Linked DNA regions of Homo sapiens: regions 1 and 3 are each reported to be linked to region 2. The links are microRNA targets in miRTarBase. Many come from high-throughput screens and were not tested one by one. Region 2 holds a microRNA gene; each other region holds the end of a gene's coding sequence.

What was found. Region 2 holds the annotated microRNA hsa-miR-4524b-5p (AUAGCAGCAUAAGCCUGUCUC, at 2,092-2,112, shown strand). A microRNA usually pairs through its seed, bases 2 to 8, with sites in the 3' UTR of a target mRNA and lowers its output. Matches are read on the target gene's strand: a 7mer-m8 pairs with bases 2 to 8, a 7mer-A1 pairs with bases 2 to 7 and ends in A, and an 8mer does both.
Region 1: the mRNA of GPR27 is a reported target of hsa-miR-4524b-5p. Seed matches in the 3' UTR shown: 8mer at 1,146-1,153.
Region 3: miRTarBase lists DLGAP3 as a target of hsa-miR-4524b-5p. The part of its 3' UTR that is shown has no 7-base or 8-base seed match.

The regions. Positions count from the first base shown.
Region 1 is chr3:71,754,712-71,758,952 of GRCh38, forward strand. GPR27 (G protein-coupled receptor 27) reads left to right here. Exons shown (of 1, transcript NM_018971.3): 1 at 1-1,785. The coding sequence ends at 466. It also overlaps a transcript of EIF4E3 not described here. Among named protein-coding and RNA genes, the nearest start is that of GPR27, 3.0 kb to the left of the region's middle.
Region 2 is chr17:69,097,479-69,101,719 of GRCh38, forward strand. MIR4524B (microRNA 4524b) reads left to right here and starts at 2,064; the gene lies at 2,064-2,178. It overlaps ABCA6 (ATP binding cassette subfamily A member 6), which reads right to left. Exons shown (of 39, transcript NM_080284.3): 22 at 3,319-3,456; 23 at 442-549. It overlaps MIR4524A (microRNA 4524a), which reads right to left and starts at 2,154; the gene lies at 2,086-2,154.
Region 3 is chr1:34,862,279-34,866,519 of GRCh38, reverse strand. DLGAP3 (DLG associated protein 3) reads left to right here. Exons shown (of 12, transcript NM_001080418.3): 12 at 219-1,084. The coding sequence ends at 437. Among named protein-coding and RNA genes, the nearest start is that of SMIM12, 4.6 kb to the right of the region's middle. RefSeq lists enhancers at 1-105, 156-255, 306-385 and a silencer at 546-595.

The DNA.
Region 1 (4,241 bases), not on the chromosome of region 2:
CGCCGTCAGCCACGACTGGACCTTCCACGGCCCGGGCGCCACCGGCCAGGCGGCCGCCAACTGGACGGCGGGCTTCGGCCGCGGGCCCACGCCGCCCGCGCTTGTGGGCATCCGGCCCGCAGGGCCGGGCCGCGGCGCGCGCCGCCTCCTCGTGCTGGAAGAATTCAAGACGGAGAAGAGGCTGTGCAAGATGTTCTACGCCGTCACGCTGCTCTTCCTGCTCCTCTGGGGGCCCTACGTCGTGGCCAGCTACCTGCGGGTCCTGGTGCGGCCCGGCGCCGTCCCCCAGGCCTACCTGACGGCCTCCGTGTGGCTGACCTTCGCGCAGGCCGGCATCAACCCCGTCGTGTGCTTCCTCTTCAACAGGGAGCTGAGGGACTGCTTCAGGGCCCAGTTCCCCTGCTGCCAGAGCCCCCGGACCACCCAGGCGACCCATCCCTGCGACCTGAAAGGCATTGGTTTATGAGGGAGGCCCCGCCACATAGACCCCCAACCCAGCCTTTCCCTTTGGCTCGGACGGTGACGTTGTATCTTTTCCTTCTGGCCCCTGTTTAATTTTCTAAGCTGCCTTCAAAATGACTCGAAGTGGACAGACACTTGGATTGTACTGACTCCTTTGGGGGTGGGGTGGGTGAGGAGTAGGATGCTCAGCCCACTCCAGCTCCGCACATTCGTCCTCCTAACTCGACTTTCTTCCTGACAATAGGCCCTGCAGTCTTTTTGTAGCGGTACTGACGTCTTTTATTCCATGTGTGGTTCCTTTTTTTCTTTTTCTATAAAGGCTGTACTAATTTTCTTCATGCAACGTTTCCTAAAGACCATGGCCAGTTTTCTACAGAAGCTATTTTTGACAACCTCAAGTGGCATTACATTTTGCAGTGAAGTAGAGGAACCTAGGGGGACTTCTTCACAAGTTAGATTTCTTGAGGATCTTCTGTTGGAAGCAGGAGAAAGTGGGGGGTGGGGGGAAGTTGTCCGAAATGCCCTCTGAATTGCCGGCTGCAGGGTCCTTGTGCTGCGCTGGTTCTTTGAAAGTCTCAGTGTTGATATTGAACTTAAAGAGCAGAGATGGAGATCAGTAGCAAGGCAGTCATTTTTTTAAAGCAGTAAGTAACAAGTAAGATTTGGTTCCCGGTTTACTTTCTGCTGCTAAAAACCACGTCAGTGACAACTGCTCTCTGTATTATAGCAATCTTGAATGGAAACATTTCTGTCAAGTTGTAAGTTTTAAAAGAGTAAAGTGTTTTGGTTAGTAATGATGTGGAGAAAAATACAGTATTGCATGTGTTCGTGTGTATAGATTGTGGTTCGAGGATTGGGAGGGCTCTGAGAAGCAGAGTACTACATCAAAATTGTTTTAAGTATTTTTTGCCAATAAAAAATTAATTTTATGGAAATGGCTTGTGCTTTGAGAAGCCCAGTTTTATTCTGTCTTATGAAACTAATTTCCACTTTGAAAATTGTTCTTCTGTTGTTTATGGTATAAATGAATGGAATATAATGATATCCTCCTTCTAGGAAACAAAGCATTTCCTTAAAATGTTTGCTAGGTTAAGCTGTGCTGTTCTACTGATGGTTGTTTTAAATTAATAATGAGAACTATAATTTAAATAATATTTCTTTGTTAGACATTATAATGTTAAACTGAAAGACTAAATTCTGCAAGTACTATATAATATTTTTGGCTTATAATGCTACATTTTTATTAATGTACCTTCCGTTTTGAGGATTTATATCTGTATTTCTCTTTGCATTATACAAATATACCAGTATTTTCATTCTGGAGTGGTTGTTTTGTTGTGGTGGTGGTGGTGTTTGAGGCTGTAATAATACATGCGTCGAAGTATGTTACATGCCTCTAAGTATGTTATGTAAGGATAACATGCTCTATGATCCTTTTAGCACGTGTTCTTCAGTTACAGGTTTCATAGTTTGACCATCAGCATATCCAAGAAAAGTGGAGGCTTAATTTAAAATGCAAGATAAAATCTGCGAAACTTTTCTTTAAAGGGAAGAAGCAGTAGACATATATACGGCTTTAAAACTGTTTTTTTATTTGGATGACAACATTTCAATGACTATTCGTTAAATGACATAAAAAAGCTTTTAAGTAAACATATCAAACTCAAGTACAAGCGATCATTTTGATAAAAGTACTAGGTAAAAGTGGGGGTGGTAGATTATATTGAAATTTAGCTGAGTATAATATAAACTATTAAATGTTCAGTCCAATGGGAATAAGTTATAAAAAGAGTGTGGCCAATTTAATTGATCTCTGGTAAATAGGCTGCATGATTTTATTTTGTTGTGGAAGTTAATCAGTCTGTGAAGACAGTCTCACACTTGGAAAATATGAGACAGTTACCCTATTTCTCCCCACATCATGAATCCAGGTTGGCCTCAATCATCCAAGGGCCACTGATCGGAAACCTCAGCCAACCCCAAGATAGAGGAGCCCAGAAGTACCTCTCTCCTCATCTAACCCTCCACCTGCCCAAGTGATCTCAGTTCCAAATAGAGGTCGAACCAGTCTACGATGGCTCATGCCTGTAACCCCAGAACTTTGGGAGGCCGAGGCAGGAGAATTGCTTGAGACCAGGAGTTTGAGGCCAGCCTAAGCAACATAGCGAGACCATGTCTCTACAAAAAATCAAAAAATTAGCTGGGTGTGGTAATGTGCACCTGTGGTCACAGCTACTGGGGAGGCTGAGGTGAGAGGATGGCTTAAGCCCATGAGGTCAAGGCTGCAGTGAGCCATGACTGTGCCATGGCACTGTAGCCTGGATGACAGAGCTCTCGAGACCCTGTCTCAAAAAAGCCCCCAAAACAGAGATCACCAAGTCTCTGTGATTTTCCCACCTGGCATGGCACAGGAACCAGCCCATCATGGCTGACTCCTGAGCCACTCCAGCTTTGGGCAGCAGCTCAGCTGCACCAGAGGTGACGTGTTGGCCTGACATAGCCTTGAATTCAAGGGATATTTTGTCATATGAGAATTCATAAGCCAGAGGTTCTCAAATTCTAACATTCATACAAATTAAGTGTCTGTGTGATCCAGAGTCTTATGAGGACATGTTGAGTTGGGTCCTGGGGAAAAGCATTTCAACAGGTTCCTCAGGTGGTTGGAGACAGACCTCCAGGACTTCGTTCAGACATGATTTACTTCAGACATGATGCGTTCAAACTTGGCTACCTGGGTTTTTTATTTTTATGTTTTAAAGTTCTGATTAGATGGGGGAAGGCAAGATTTCTAGTGAGTGTGCAGGTGAGAGTAGCAAGAAATAACAGCCAACTAAAGGAAACGAGAACCAAAAGAGCCAGAGAAACAAGCTATGTAGCAGAAAGTGGGGAGGTGCAAAGGGCCACCCCAACAGCTTTTAGGATTGGTGAATCTATTAACATGTACTTTGATAGTTAATTACATTAATCAAAAATTATAAAAAAAAAAAAAAGGTTAGTTGTGTCCACAGTACTCTACTTATTGTACCAGCACAGGCACCATGTATTTAGGGAAGATTTCATTAAAATTGCTCATTTTATTTATTTGGGAAGTTAATTTAGCACAACTTCCCCACCCTCCCACGCAGTTGTCACTATACTTGAAGCAATGTAGGCTTCCCGTACATAGATCTTTGTCTGTATGTTCTAGCATGGAATTGCTGGGTCAAAAGAAGCATTTTTAGGACTTTTGATATCTTGTCAAATAGTTTTGTAGAAGGACCATATGTCTATATGTCTGTTTAAATGTACAGTACACCTGACATATTCTTTTTTTTTCTTTTGAGACAGAGTCTCGCTCTGTTGCCCAGCTTGGATTGCAGTGGCGTGATCTCAGCTCACTGCAACCTCCACCTTTGGGTTCAAGTAGCTGGGATTACAGCTCAGCCTCCCAAGTAGCTGGGATTACAGGCGCCTGCCACCAGGCCCAACTAATTTTTGTATTTTTAGCAGAGACAGGGTTTCGCTATGTCGGCCAGGCTGGTCTCTAACTGTTGGCCTCAAGTGGTTTACCAGCCTTGGCCTCCCAAAGTGCTGAGATTACAGGTGTGACACATTCATTTTTTAAATGAAATATTTTAAGCAAAGTGGGGAAGCATGTAACAAATCAGTAACAACAGTGATAATCTCTGTGTCCACTACTCAGCCTTACCAAATGCCATATTGGTTTCTACTCTTCCTTTTCTCTTTTCCCTTCCTTCCTTCTTTCTTCCTTCCTTCCCTCCCTCCCTTTTTTCTCTTTC
Region 2 (4,241 bases):
AGGATGGTGAACGTTGATAGATTTAACTGCTTTGTCTGAATAATGGGCATAATCGAATACAAATATAACATAAAATTGCAATTTCCAGAGTGGAAAAGGAATTCAAGTCTTAAATTTGGCCTTTGATTTCAACATCAATGATTTCCTTCTTGTGGCTGGGAAATAATGTGGTCAAAAGATTTATAATATTTCCCTTTGAAGGTTTAGACTAATTGGAGTCTCTGAAAAATCACTGTACTTTTCAGGTGACTTTGGAATAAAAAGCATTTTGAGTTTTTAGAAGTAAATTATCTGACTTGCCAAGAATAAGGTTTAGCTACAATATCTAAATTAAACATACATTCAAATGTTTTTGTCAGAAGAAAACATTTTGAACACATAGCATTCAAAATACAGATATTGAAATTCCTGAAATTTCTTCTTTTCCCTGCTTTTTCTTACCTTGTAATCACTGATGCTGCCCATGGTGATATAAGGAGAAATGCTACATAGAACCAAAAATAAGAAAAAGGAACCATCCGGCAACCCAGTCCAGAGTCCTATGTGGCTCTGAAAATATAAAGGGTAGCTTAAACTAGTGAATATTTGTTAAATGAAACAAATAATTATAGCCACAAAAATGCACTTTTTGAAATGTTGAAAAATCAAAGTAAAGGTGTAGCTCATTACCATCTAGGCACGAAGGTGGGAGGGAAAGTGACTCTGATCTTCAACTCAAAGAACAAAGAGAAGTCAAAAGTCATTTAGGACCTACTTCTGGGGATATTTCCAAAAGAATTGAAAGCAAGCTCTCGAAGAGATACCCTCACATTCATATTCATACCAACAATACTCACAAGTGGAAGCAACCCAAAAGTCCAAATTAATGGATTAACAAAATGTGTATGTATATACAAACAATGGATACTATTCAACCTTAAAAAGGATCACTTGAGGTCAGGAGTCTGAACCAGCCTGACCAACATGGTGAAACCCCATCTCTACTAAAAATACAAAATCAGCCAGGTGTGGTGGTAAATGTCTGTAATCCCAGCAACTTGGGAGGCTGAGGCAGGAGAATCGCTTGAATCTGGGAGGCAGAGGTTGCAGTGAGCAGAGATCGCCCCATTGCACTGCAGCCTGAGCAACAAGAACAAAACTCGGTCTCAAAAAAAAAAAAAAAAAAAAAAGAAGGAAATCCTGTCACATGCTACAACATAGACGAACCTGGAAAATATGCTAAGTGAAATAAACCAGTTACAAAAAGACAAATATTCCACTTATATAAGGTTTCTAAACTAGTAATATTCATAGAAACATAATAGGATGGTTATTTCCAGGGGATGGGGGAGGGGGAAAGCTAATTGGCATCGAGTTTCAATTCCGCAAGACGGCAAAGTTCTGGAGATGCATTTCACAACAATGTGAATATACTTAATACTACTCAACTGTACACTTGCAAACAGCTAAAATGGTCAATTTTATATCATGTATTATTACCACAACAAAAAAACAATAATTCAGAAGTTAGGACCTCTGATGAACATATAATTCAGGCCTGAGTAGCACGTCTTTCTGAGCAAACCCAGAGATGGAAACCTCAGTAGCTGGGTGGATGTGTTCTGAAGCACAGAACCAAGAAGAAAACTTGTTGCTGCTTGTCTTAACTTCAGGGAAAGGAACTTTAAATCACTACCCCCAAATCAGCATCCACTTGAGGCTAGGCCAAGTGGACACTCTAGCAGCATCTAGGACCACCTCATGGATATAATTACAGGATAACAGCATGAGCCTGTCTCAAAATAATTCCACAATTATTTAACTTTATTTAAGACTTTGAGGGCTATGTCTATAAATTCTGTTTTTCATCATAGGAATGAGGGAGGAAAGGTGTGTGCCATGGGGAAGTGGGAGTGGGGAACAGGTTTCTAATAGAGTAGCTATGGGCTTCAGTCCATTTTGATCCTGAGCAAACACAATGGCATTAGGAAGCTAATAATTCAGAAGTTAGGACCTTTGATGAACACATAATTCAGGCCTGAGCAGCATGTCTTTCTGAGCAAACCCAGAGATGGAAACCTCAGTAGCTGGGTGGATGTGTTCTTTTGAAGGATAGCAGCATAAGCCTGTCTCAAAATAATTCTGCAGTGAGACAGGTTCATGCTGCTATCGTTCCAAAGAGGAAGGGTAATCACTGTCTCTTTCTGCTACTCCTCTGGTTCCACTTTCTGGAGAATTCCCTTCAGACACCCCTTCCCTCGAGTCATCCTGTGCAGCAGACCTGTTTACGTGATCAGTCGGTCATACTCAACTCACGGAGGTATGTGTCTGTCACGAACATCTCAAGTACTGTATATTTCATCCCCATTGTTCCCATGGCTTACAGAAAACCTGTGCTTGCATATACTCCCAGCACCACTGATTCAGTGAAGCCAAAACTGAGCTTCACACTTTTGTCACAAAATGGACTTCCCTTTGGATGGCTTCATTTCTAATCCTGCTTCTTGATGTTTCAGACTTCTGGTGTGAAACAGTTGGAGTCAGCTTTGAGACACCCCTGTTGGTATCAGGCAGGGTCTAACCAGAAAACCATGACTACGTTAAGTTCTTAGAGTGCAATTCCTTATGACATGGTTAGGTGGGTGATGAGCATCCCACAAAGATGGTGAAGTGAGAAGCAAGCTATTGTTGCTTCTGGGCTTCAGGAACAGCAGAAGGAGGTGATGTGACTGGAGCCCAATGTAGGGGGTCCTCTGCTCTTCTGTCTCCCACCACTGCTTTCTAGTGTCCAAACTGTCTGAAGCCAGACTATAGCCAACTGACACAGAATCCAATGCAGCCTGTGTGTATTAGGCTCCCTCACAACATAGAGCAACTATGAGTAGGTGAATAAATAAATCAACAGATAGCCCCAGAACTGGCAGATTCTCCTTCATATTAGTCTGTCTACTACACATTTAGTCAATGGAGGGTCCACTAACTAATTATAATAGATTTATATGTAACCAGGGTTACAAGTTCTCCTGATTTCCAAGTCAGTGTTTTCTTTTTTCTGTTTCTCTTTCTCATACACTTCCACAATCAAGTATGTACAACTTTTCAAAACATTGCCTAGAAGACTGACAAAATATTGAAAAGTATTCCCTCACGATAATTATCTGATAACTTGGCAGGAAAAAAAAATCCTGTTTTGTTTGCTATAACCCATTGAAAATATTAGGATAAAATAATAATTTTCAGGCTTAACAATCACTTATGGATATTTAAAAGCTAAAGAGAGAAAACATAGGCTATTTGTCCAATTCTTAATTGTTTAGACTCAGTAAATCCAATACTTACAAGAGGAAATGGGCTTGACTCAATTCGAATATGTTGTGTGTGATTAAACATTTGAAGTAGCCCATTGCTGATAATATTCATAAGAATTGGAAAACAGTGCAATCTCTTGGTATTACACACAACTGAAAATCTATAATCCTTAAAACAGAAACAAATAAATAATGTTAATGCTAAATTCTTAAAGAACAAAGGCAAGGTTTATGTATAAAAGATCCTAACAGTGCCACATGCTTGTTGTGTGTCCATCTTCAAGTGAACTAAACTTTCTGAGCTTTACCTTCCTCATCTATGAAAAGGAAATACTAAATGGGTTGTTATAGGGCTTAAATGACACTCTATTCATGTACATTAAGCTCTAGCACAGAGTCAGCATACAATCAATATGAATTTTTATTTGTATTACTAATTTTAGATAATTTTGTCTCCATTTTGCTGATGGGGAAATTTCATTTAGTAGAGTTTAAAAGTCTCCCTGACAAGGAGATGCTGTCAGTTTATGATGAAGAAGCAAAGGAAGATTGGGCATGGTGGCTCACACCTGTAATTCTAGCACTTTGGGAGGCCAAGGCGGGCAGATCACTTGAGGTTAGGAGTTTGAGACTAGCCTGGCCAACATAGCAAAACCCTATGTTTACTAAAAAATACAAAAATTAGCCAGGTGTGGTGGCACACATCTGTAATCCCAGCTACTTGGAAGGCTGAGGCAGAAGAATCACTTAAACTCAGAAGGCAGAGGTTGTAGTGAGCTGCGATCACACCACTGCACTCCAGCCTGGGTGACAGAGCGAGACTCTGTCTCAAAAAAAAAAAAAAAAGCAGCAGCAGCAGCAAAGGAATGCTGGCCTTCTGGATAGGAGATAAGCATGGAGTTCATTAAATATTCATCCTTACCCTGCCAAAGAAGCATTTCCCCACTTCCTAAA
Region 3 (4,241 bases), not on the chromosome of region 2:
CTCGAACGCGCCGCGCTTTGGTGGAAAATGTGGGGATTTGACCTTGTCGGAACAGGAGCACCTGGGGCTTCAGGTCACGGGATCCGTGGCGGATTCTGAGCGCCATCGCGTTCGGAGCCACGCGGTCGTCAGCACTCTGGGCGCGGGGGTGCGGGGGCGGACACCTGGGTGTTGGGATGGTTCGGCGCCCCAGCTCAGCGACGCCCTCTGCCCCGCAGGAGGAGAAGAAGGTCCCTCCGCCGATACCAAAGAAGCCCCTGCGGGGCCGGGGCGTGCCGGTGAAGGAGCGCTCCCTGGACTCCGTGGACCGGCAGCGGCAGGAAGCGCGCAAGCGGCTCCTGGCGGCCAAGCGCGCCGCTTCCTTCCGCCACAGCTCGGCCACCGAGAGCGCCGACAGCATCGAGATCTACATCCCCGAGGCCCAGACCAGGCTGTGACCGGTCCGGCCCGCCCAGCCCGGCCCGGGCCCGCGGTTCTCCACCCGTACTGTACACCCAGCGTCGAGGTCACTGTGAACGCGGGCCGCCCCGTGCGCCCGCCCCACCGGCACCGGACGCCCCGGCCCCCGGGCCCGTCACACTCTCGTGGGTTTTTTACCTTCCTGATCCCACGCGAAGGCGCCCGGGCTGGGCAGGGGGCCGTGCCTCTCCGCCCTGCGCCCCTCACCTGGATCCCCTGCCCACCTGGTCCGACGCTTTGTCCCCACCTCCTCCCCATGGGCACCATCTCTGCCATTCTTTCCCCCACGGGCCAGGCCGGGCCGGGTCCCTCATCTGGGCTCTGCGTCCCCCCCTCCCCCACCCCGCGGGGCTGGGCTTCGTGGGGATCAAGCTTCGTGGCTTTTTATGAAGAATCCCGAACCCTGCCTAGGAGCCCGCCCCACCCTCCCAGGGGCTCCATCCTCAGCCCTCTGCCCACTGGGCCCAGGGACCACAGTGGCTGGACCAACCCAGGACCAGGGCGCCTGGGCCTCTCCCCTTTCCCAGCGGCTGGGGAGGGGAGATGGGGGCTTCCCCTCACCACACCTGTGGCTGTTCCCACATCCCCTTGAATATCCCAGGAAAAATAAAACGGCAGAACTGCACTCGAGCCAGCTGCTCTCTCCAGAAGAGGCCACCTCCGTCCCGTGTGTGGGAGGACGGGGGTGAAGGGAGAAGGGACCGGGAGCCCACTCTCTTGGTTTGGAGATAGCAGGGGTTGCCTGAGCTCCTTCCAGGGATGGGCCAGCTGGTGGAAAGGAGATTCGGCCCCCTGATGCCCACAGTAAGGGCCTGGACCCTCCTGGAGGGGCCCAGGTGGGGTGAAGAGGGGGAGGGTGCCAAGCTCTCCGTTCTTCCTATTTCGGTGTATCCCGTTCTGCCTCCCAGTCCGCAGGGTTCCCCCAGAGAGGGAAGTCCGGAGCTCGCCGGGCACGCAGCATGTGCTCAATAAACCGGGAGTGTGGTTATTGTTAGGTATTGACAAATAATTGGTTTCCCTTCCCCTAGGGGCACAATGTTCCTTCTGCTCCAGTCATTCCTGATCAGCAGCAGAAAATCTTCAGTCCTGCCGCATTTTCTGATGCCTCCTATGGGTGGCCACCTTGGTGGAGGCTGGGGTGGGGGAAGAGGAAGTACAAAGAACAGAGCTCTCCTGGGAAGCTAAATGGCAACCAGAACCTAGTATCGATGGCTTTATTGAGTGGTCAGTGTGGGTCAGGCAAGGGGTGAGTGCTTTACATGAATGTGGCTGGTCCTTACAATAGAAGAGAAAGCCAAAGCTCAGGGCAGGTTACAAGACCTGTCTGAGGTCACAGGACTAAATGTGGTGGACCCAGGTCTAATGCCAAATCATGAGCTTTTAGCTTTGCAGGCTTCTTAGACCAGAGAGGGCTGATGGCAGTCTCCACCCAGAAAGCCCCTTTCCACTCCTTGAGCAGTCCTTTGGGTTGGTGTGTCACCTCCAGGCAGGAGGAAAAGCCTTCAGGATTGGCTGCTTTTCTGGGCCACACTGGGTCAGCTAATTCTTCTCATTCATTTATCCAGCAGACATTTATCACTTTTGGGCGCCACAGGAATAGCCCTGAACAAGATGTAGTTTCTACCCTTAATGGAACTTATGGTCATATGGGAAAAACAGACAAATAAGCAAGCAGTTAAAATACAGGAGTAAGTGCCAGAAAGATGATTAGAGATTAGCTGCTGAAGGAGGGCCAGGGCTGGGAAGAATGTTCCAAGATCAGGGAACAGCTGTGCAAAGGCTTGGAAGAGGAAGAGACATTGGGAGCACAGAGACTTGATTATATCAGTGTTTGGGTCTCATTGAGGCAGGTGGCCTGGGTCTTGTGGGCTGTAGGGAGCCATAGAAGGGTTTTGAACAGAGGAGTGGCATGAACGTTTTATAGACTGGTTTGGTAGACAACTTTGGAAAAGCAAGAGATGGTCCACGTACACACATGAGCCTGGAAGGTGAGGAGAACTCTAATGTGATCTGAATTCCCAAAAGCAGTCCGTTTGGAGGTGATCCCATACAGACTCCTGGGCCTGGTCCAAGACTTAGTGAATAGACTCTGCCCTCGAATAAGGTTTTAACAAGTGCTTCACAAGATTCTGAGCAGCCAGCTTTGGGAAGACTTAAATTGGATGACTGTCCAAAGGTCTCCAGTAGAAGGGCTGGGTCAGTTTACCTCTCTGAGGTTGTTTTATCATCTCTAAAATTGGGGGCATGGGTGAGGTTTGAACTCAGAGCAATGCTGTAAAACAGATATTGTTTTCACCCCCATTTACAGATGAGGAAATGGGCTTGGAGAGGTTTAAACAGCTTACCTCAAACCATGAAGCCAGGAAGTGGCTGAGTCTGAGTTTAACCTTTACATTTATACAGCATTTTATGGGTCTATGACTTTATTCATAGAGTTTTCCATGTCTGGTGTGGATGAGTCTCCTTTGGTTCTTGTGGCCTAGGTAGTTATGCTGAGCCCCATAGATAGTGAAAGATTAGGTCCAGTCCTTTTGCTTGAGTTGCTTACAGTCTGGCCATGGCCAGCATATAAACAGAAAGTTATGGTGCAAAGGGAAACCTGTTCTCCCAGAGGGGCCAAGGGATTGAGAGGAGAGAGCCTCTAGCAACCAGGGTGTTTTAGTCCATTTTGTGCTGCTATAACAATACCACAGACTGGATAACTTATAATGAACAGGTATTTATTGGCTCACAGTTCTGGGTGCTGGGGAATTCAGTGTCAAGGGGCTGGCAACTTGTGAGGGCCTTCTTGCTGTGTCATCCCATGGCAGGTGAGAGGGCAAGAGAGGGCAAGAGGGAGTTGAACTTGCCCTTTTATAAGGGTGTCAATCCACCCATGAGAGTGCAGCCCTCATGGCCTAATAACCTCTTAAAGGTCCCACCTCTTAATACAATGACAAATTTCAGTGTAAGTTTTGGAGGGTACAACCATAGCACAGGCAGTCTGGGAAAGCCTTCTGCCTTGTGAGTTGGATCTTGCAGGATGAATTAGCATTTTGTAGTCAAGGAAGAGAAGGGAGAAATTCATTTCTGGCCAAGGGACCAACCTGGGCAAAGCCATGGAAGCACATGTGTGTTGGGAATGAAAGCATAGGCTGGAGAGGGTGACAGGTTATGGTGGCTGTGGAGGGCGTGGAGGAGATACGGCCAGAAGGGACCCATAGAGTTGGGGGTGGGAGGCTAAGATGGAAACCTCATAGTTTTATTTGAAAGATGAAACTACGGCCAAAAGAAAGGAAATGGACTGGATGGGGCAACAAGACAGCAGGGAGACCATTCAGGGAGCTGCTAAAGTGGTCCAGGTAAGAGATAATGATGTTGACTTTGAGAGACATTTAGGAGGCATAAGTGCAGTAAGCTGGATCTGGAGAATAATGTAAAGATGGGACGCCTTGAAGGTGTCACTCAGATTTCTGGCTTAATGAATGAGTAATGCCACGAATGGACATAGGACATTACAGAAGGAGCAATACAGTTGGGAAATACTTAACATGTCAATAACCATTTACTGAGCACTGAGAAGGTGCAAACTACTATGCCAAGCACTTTATACACATTTAGGTGATTTAATACTCATAGCAACCCTAGGAGTGGGTACTATTATTGTCTTTTTTTAAAAACAAAGAGTGTAAATAGCTTTTCTGAGATAAGCAGACAAGAGTCAGGATTTGAACCCATGGCTATCTGATTTCTCAGTCTATGCTCCTGAGCCCCTCAGCAATTCTGCTTGAGGGAACTGCTAG